2 linked regions of the Homo sapiens genome follow. The protein of the gene in region 1 interacts with the protein of each later gene in a pairwise test. Each region holds a gene or a part of one and is shown on either strand. Other genes may lie near its edges.

Region 1 (3,760 bases):
ACCTGTAGTCCCAGCTACTCGGAAGGCCGAGGCAGGAGAATTGCTTGAACCCGGGAGGCAGAGTTTGCGGTGAGCCGAGATCATGCCACTGCACTCCAACCTGGCGACAGAGCGAGACTCTGTCAAAAAAAAAAAAAAAAAAGGGCTTAACACAGTAAATTTTATGTTTTGTATATTTTATCACAATTAAAATTTTTTAAAGAAATATGAAGAAAAGGTCAATAAAAGAACATATAAAATGAAGAGCAAAGTGCTTTTTGGTTGTTTATACATAAATACATTAACTTCTATAGATTTACTCATTTTGCTGGTAAGACAAATTGCTGCTTTCACCCCACTGAAACCCCGAAGCTATAATTACAATTCCCTTTAAGAATTACCTTGAAACTCAGACCTTCAGTTGAGAAATTCTGACCTGAGTCAAATATTGCTTAACTTCCTTTTGGGCGCTGTAGGCCCATCTCTTATTCACCATCTTTCTCAATGCCTAGCAAACCTCCATCCTGATTTCAATAGTAATGCATATAGAATGCAGGCACATTGAATGTTTCTTCTTTGTTAGGAAACTTTTCAACGAGTCGGGGAGGGCTCAAGTATATTGAATAACTTGAAACTTTATCACTGTGACACAACTGCGTGACTTCAAGATCTGAAGCAGACAATTCTGAGAGAAATGTTCGCTAATAGAGGGTGTGAATATTTTTTATTTTTCTGTGCTGTCTTGCCTGTTGTTTATTAAGAGTTTGATTCTTAGGAAGACCTCTTTTACTGTATGCAGTCTTTAAAAGTGGAATTTTAAAAAGGCAAAAAAGAATTATCTTTTAAGTGCTGGTTCACAATAATTAGGAAAATTACATAAGATCCTGAATTGATGGCCCTTTGTGAAACTAACTTTAAAACAAAACAAAACTGACTGCCCCAGGTTTTCTACATTCCAGCTCCCTCTGGTGGTTAAAAATGTAGGACTCAGACTCTTGGTTATGTAAGGGTACTTAACTCTTCATATTTGGGGATAAAGTTTGAGGGGAGATGCACCTGTTTGAGATGCAGTAATCGATTTCTGAGGCAATTATGAATACTTATCTGAATGCAAAGCCACAGGTGATATAGCCACTCTTAAGAGACGATATTCACATTTCAGAGGGAAGGTGGGTAGAAGGTGATTGATTCATTTCTCACCATACCATTTTTCAGTATCTTAAATGTATACAGTTTATCATGAAATTATATTAGACCAATAACTTTTCTGATTATGAAAACAATGCATGCTCATCACAGAAAATACAGAAAAGAGTAAAAGAACAAATGAAAATTACCTAAAATCTCACCATTCAGAAAATGCCCCTCTTTAAAATTTTGCGTATCTCTTCAGTCTTTCCATATGTAATTCTTAAGTAAAATTTGGACCAGATTCTATTTTTAAATAACACCTTTATTCAGATGTAATTCACATACCATACAATTCCCCTAAAGTGTATAATTCAGTGGCTTTTAGTATATTCACAGTTGTGTAACCCATCACCACAAATAAATCAACTTTAGAAGATTTATCTGTGCCACCACCCCCCAAGAAAATCCCTGCACTTTAGCAGCCACTCCTCTTTCTTCACTCCACTGCCCTTCTGTCCCACCCCACCAAGTCAACAACTAATCTTTTTTCTGTCTGTATAGATTTGCTGTCTGGACATTTCATGTGAATAAAATCATACAGTATGTGGTCTTTTGTATCTGGCTTCTTCTATTCAGCATAACGTTTTCAAGGTTCATCCATGTTGTAGCATTTTCAGTACTTCATTCCTTTTCATGGCAGAATAATATTATGTTGTGTGGATAAACCACATTTTATTTATCCATTCATCAGTTGATGGACATTTTGATTATTTCCCATTTTTGGCTATTATGAATAATACTGCTATGAACATTTGTGTACAAGTGTGTGTGTGTTTTTTTTTTTTTTTTTTTTGAGATGGAGTCTCGCTCTGTCACCCATGCTGGAGTGCAGTGGTGCAATCTTGGCTCACTGCAATCTACACCTCCTGGGTTCAAGTGATTCTCGTGCCTCAGACTCCTGAGTAGCTAGGATTACAGGCATGTGCCACCACGCCCGGCTACTTTTTGTATTTTTAGTAGAGACAGGGTTTCATCATGTTGGCCAGCCTGGTCTCGAACTCCTGACCTCAGGTGATCCACCTGCCTTGGCCTCCCAAAGTGCTGGGATTACAGGCATGTGCCACCACACCCGGCCTGTGTACAAGTTTTTGCATGGACATATGTTTTCATTTATCTTGAATCTGCTGGATTATATAACTGTTTAATCTTTCATATAGTTTTGCATCTTGATTTTTTTTCACTTAGCTTTAGGACTATTTTTCCACATCATTAAATATTCTCTAAAAACACGATTTTTAAATGGTTATGTTATTGGATCATCCTAGGAGTTTGCGATAGTTTTTAATCATTCTCCTATTTGGGGCCTTCCAGTTTCTCCTAAGTTTGAAGAAAATGCGTACATATGCGGTCTCCACATCTCTCGTTTCCTTAAAGTGAATTCACAGAAGTAGAATTACTAAAAGGTAAATATGTTTTATGTCACTTGTCATATGGTGTCTGGGAAGATTGTGTGAATTCTCTCTCTAAACACTTCAGTGTTCTTAGCCTGTGTATGTTCGGTGGTGATTATTTAATATCAAGTGCTATAAAACAGAGCCCATGGATTTTTGAAAAGACACAGTCCCTGCCATCAAGATGCTTATGTCCAGCACTCTTTTCATCCTCCCAAACTGAAAACTCTGCACCCATTAAACAACTCCTCATTCTTCCCTCCCTCCAGCCCCTGGCAATCACCACTCGACTTTCTGTCTCTATGGATGAGACTACTCTAGGTACTTCATGTGAGTGGAATCATACAGTATTTCTCTTTTTGTGACTGGCTTATTTCACTTAGCATAATGTCCTCAAGGTTCATCCATGTTGTAGCATGTGTCAGAACTTTCTTCCTTTTTAAGAATGAATAATATTCCATTGTCTATACATAACACATTTTGTTTATCCATTCAAATGTCAACGGATACTTGAGTTGCTTCTGGCTTTTGGCCATTGTGAATAACACTGCTGTGAGCACTGGTATACCAATCTCTCTTTGAGACCCTGCTTTCAATTCTTCAGAGTATATACTCAAAAATGGAATTGCTGGATCATATGGTAATTCTATTTTTAATTTTTTGAGGACCCACTGTATTGTTTTCCATTCCCTTCCACATTTTTAACAGGATTTAAATCCAGTCAAACTTTCTAGTCCTCTGTGGGACCATCATGTGGATATAAAGGATTTATTGCCCTAGGAGGGTATAATGTGGAAGCCATTGAAATACAAAATTCTGACAATTGCCATAAAAAGACAAGGTAAGGCATATGTCCAGCTTAGTTCTACATAGTTCATTCAATAAATATATATTAGGGATTGAGTATGTGCTAGATGCTGAGCCTAAAGAGACAGTCTCTGCCTTGAAGGAGCTGATAGCCTAGTGGGAGTAATACTGACAAGAAACTGGCCAGTTACAACACATGTGGAATTTCAACATGGACAGACACTGGCTGCTAGGGGAAACACACGCAGGATGGCACCAAACCCTATCTGGGCTCGCCATCATCTGGACAGCTACAATTTGCTTCTTTACTGCCTTCACTGTACTTCTGGCACTCACAAGGCCCAACTGTGAGTCTGGCACTTTGTTAGAGGGATCATCCTCTAGTACAGATC
Region 2 (3,500 bases), on another chromosome or scaffold:
GCCACCGCGCCGGCCTCAATGCACTCTTTAAAGAGAAGGGCAGTTAGCGACAGGGTCTCATGTTGTTGCCTAGGCTGGGGTGCCCTGGCACGATCATGGCTGACTGCAGCCCTGTGCGCTCAAGTGAGCCTCTCACCTCAGCCTCCCAGGGTGCTGGGACTGCCAACATGAGCCACTGGACTCGGCAGTGTAAACTACTTTTTTCATGCTATTGCATATGTATTGTTCATTGATAATATATAGAAACATAACTGGGTTTTGTGTATGGATTTTGTGCCCTGCAACTTTGCTGAAATAATTAATTAGGGTTTTTTGTATGTGGATCTTTAGGGTTTTCTACGTAGAAGGTCGTGTCATTTGTGAATAGGGAGAATTTGTCTTTGTTTTCTTTTTCTTGCCCAGTTACTCTGGCTAGGGCCTCCAGTGCTGCCCTGAGAGCAGTGGTGAGAGAATCCGTATCTTGTTCCTGACCTTGGAGGAAGAGCTTTCAGTCCTTCACAGTTGAGCGTGGTGTCTGCTGTGGGTTTCATGTAGAGGTTTTATCGTGGTGAAGAAGTTCCTTTCTGTTCTTGAGATATTTCCTTAACTATTCTTACCTGGATCCAGAAAGGAACCACAAGTGCGTCTCTCTCTTTAAGTCTCCGATAGACGCACACTGGAAGCTGCTGCATTTGCTGGTCCCTCAGGGACTTGCCAGACCAACTAAAATGCACGACCCCAGACTTTTGGAGGACAAGGTCTCCTGCCCACCATGGTCCCAGCCAGCAGCTCCAGGAACACAGGCTGGGCTCCCTGCAGTGGAGGCGGGGTTGAGGAATGCTGGGGTGGCAGCTACTCACCGTGTGCTTCCCAGGGAGCATCACCTGTTCCTCTGAAGCCCTGCCTGGGTGGCTTGAGCTTGGAATCAAGCTGACCCATTTTGAGAGAGTGGATTCTGAGCTTTTTCCTAGCGTAAGGTCGTTTTGATAAAGGAGTGGTCCTTTGGACATCCCTGTTCTGCCGTCCTGATACCTCTAGTTGTGGGTTTTATGTGTAGCACAGGGTGAAGCTTTAGTTCTCAGAACCCACCCCTGCTGTACCCTGTGCCCTCGCCCTCCGCTGTGTTTGCCCTGACCCTCCTGTACCCTGCGTCCTCGCCCTCTGCTGTGCTCACCCGACCCTGCTGTACCCTGCGCCCTCGTCCTCTGCCGTTTGCCCCTGACCCTGCTGTACCATGCCCTCGCCCTCTGCTGTGTTCACCCTGACCCTGCTGTACCCTGCGCCCTCACCCTCTGCTGTGTTCACCTGACCCTGCTGTGTCCTGCGCCCTTGCCCTCTGCTGTGCTCGCCCTGACCCTGCTGTACCCCGCTGTACCCTGCGCCCTCGCCCTCTGCTGTGTTCACCCCGACCCTGCTGTACCCTGCGCCCTCATCCTCTGCTGTGCCCTCCCCCTCTGCTGTGTTCGCCCTGACCCTGCTGTACCCTGCGCCCTCGCCCTCTGCTGTGTTTGCCCTGACCCTGCTGTACCCTGCGCCCTCGCCCTCTGCTGTGTTCACCCCTGACCCTGCTGTGTCCTGCGCCCTTGCCCTCTGCTGTGCTCGCCCCTGAGGCCTCCTGTCCAGAGTTGCTCTGGCTTTGGTGGCTTCAGGTAGATTCTGAGGGTCAGTCAGCACAGAAGCAACTCAGGGAAGCTTCAGAAAAGACCATTTCTCAGGTTGGAGAGACAAAAAACATTTTGCAAATGGAGATCAGAAACCATTGAATTTGGGAACCTCTTTTTTTCAGAGTCTCTGGTAAGAAGAGTGAAAGCAAAGAAGCCAAGAAGTCTGAAGAACCAAGAATTCGGAAGAAGCCGGGACCCAAGCCCGGATGGAAGAAGAAGCTTCGTTGTGAGAGGTGATGCCTGCAACGCGAGGCTCGCCCTGCCTGTCGGGGCCGGGGCTCCATGCATGCTCTTCATTGCAGGGAGGAGCTTCCCACCATCTACAAGTGTCCTTACCAGGGCTGCACGGCCGTGTACCGAGGCGCTGACGGCATGAAGGTGAGCACTGGCTGTGCCTGACCCAGGCCCGGCAGCTGTCAGTGTGAACCTGGGGGAGGTAGCAGGTGTTTCTGCAGCCTAACTCAGACTTGCGCCCAAGGACACTTTGACCTAGGTTAACCGAGACCTGAAGCAGTCCTAGCCAGTGCCATCCTTGGGGGTAGATGTGAGGCCAGACTTTCACTTGAGACACCCCCCGGGGGGTCTAGAAGTTTCTTGGAGTGAAGCTGTGAAGGAGCCAGTGGTGTCGCTGGAGGAGGAGTTGGATCTGCCTTCCAGGGGCCTCAGCTGTCACCTACTGAGGGCTCGTGCCATGTGGCCCGGGTGCGGCTCTGAGGGTCTCTCACCGAGTCTCTCCTTCAGAAGCACATCAAGGAGCACCACGAGGAGGTCCGGGAGCGGCCCTGCCCCCACCCTGGCTGCAACAAGGTTTTCATGATCGACCGCTACCTGCAGCGCCACGTGAAGCTCATCCACACAGGTACGCCTATCGCCAGTGTCGCCCACGCGGGTGACAGCCAGGGGCACGTGACCTGCTTTCCAGTCTTCCTCATACCCATCCCCGCCCCAAGAGTTGGGGGTGCGTGAAGGTGGCTCATGGGGTCTTTGGTACTCAGTCACGTTGGTAGATGAAGGCTAGAGTAGGGCGTCAGTGTGAATCTGCCCTTCCCTGTGATGGAAGGAATTCCTGACTTCCCCAGGATCTAGGCAGTTTGTCAAAACTAATAGCCAAGCAATCTTGGTGTCCTTTTGCAAATTGGTCATTTTATTTTTTAATTTTTTTTTGAGACGGAGTCCTGCTCTGTTGCCCAGGCTGGAGTGCAGTGGCACCATCTTGGCTCACCACAACCTCTGCCTCCCAGGTTCAATCAATTCTCCCGCCTCAGCCTCCCAAGTAGCTGGGATTACAGGCACCCGCAACCATGCCTGGCTAATTTTTGTAATTTTTGGTAGAGACGGGGTTTCACCATGTTGGCCAGGGTGATCTCTAACTCCTGACCTCAAGTGATCTCAGCCTTCCAAAGTGCAGAGATTACAGGTGTGAGCACTGCACCTGGCCCAAACAAGTGTATCTTAAAAGGCAAGGCAGAAGGCATGAAGGCACACCAGCTCTGGGGAGCTGCCCACGTGGACAGGCGGGAGGCACGTGTGGTTCTGCCTTTTCACATGTGTGTAGGTCGTGTCATTAAGACCGGAGGCGGATGGGGGAATTATGACTGAGGGTGCTGTCTCTGTGCCCGTCTTATTTTTCACAATTTCTATAATGCACAAGTTACTTTTATAATCCAACAAGGATATGTTTTCAAAATGACAAACTTGGCCGGGCGTGGTGGCTCACACCTGTAATCCCAGCACTTTGGGAGGCTGAGGTGGGTGGATCACCTGAGGTCAGCAGTTCAAGACCAGCCTGGCCAACATGGTAAAACCTGGTCTCTACTAAAAATACAAAAATTATCTGGGTGTGGTGGCACACGCCTG

What was found.
Region 2: the proteins of TCEANC (region 1) and ZNF276 interact in binary tests that used the Homo sapiens proteins (3 or more experiments, as listed by UniProt).

What each region holds. Positions count from the first base shown.
Region 1 is NC_000023.11:13,656,011-13,659,770, reverse strand, and holds part of TCEANC (transcription elongation factor A N-terminal and central domain-containing protein), read right to left. Parts: intron 120-3,760; 5' UTR 85-119; coding exon of another isoform or gene 3-84; intron 1-2.
Region 2 is NC_000016.10:89,731,537-89,735,036, forward strand, and holds part of ZNF276 (zinc finger protein 276), read left to right. Parts: intron 1-1,765; coding exon 1,766-1,876; intron 1,877-1,945; coding exon 1,946-2,021; intron 2,022-2,384; coding exon 2,385-2,502; intron 2,503-3,500. UniProt on the Homo sapiens protein: May be involved in transcriptional regulation.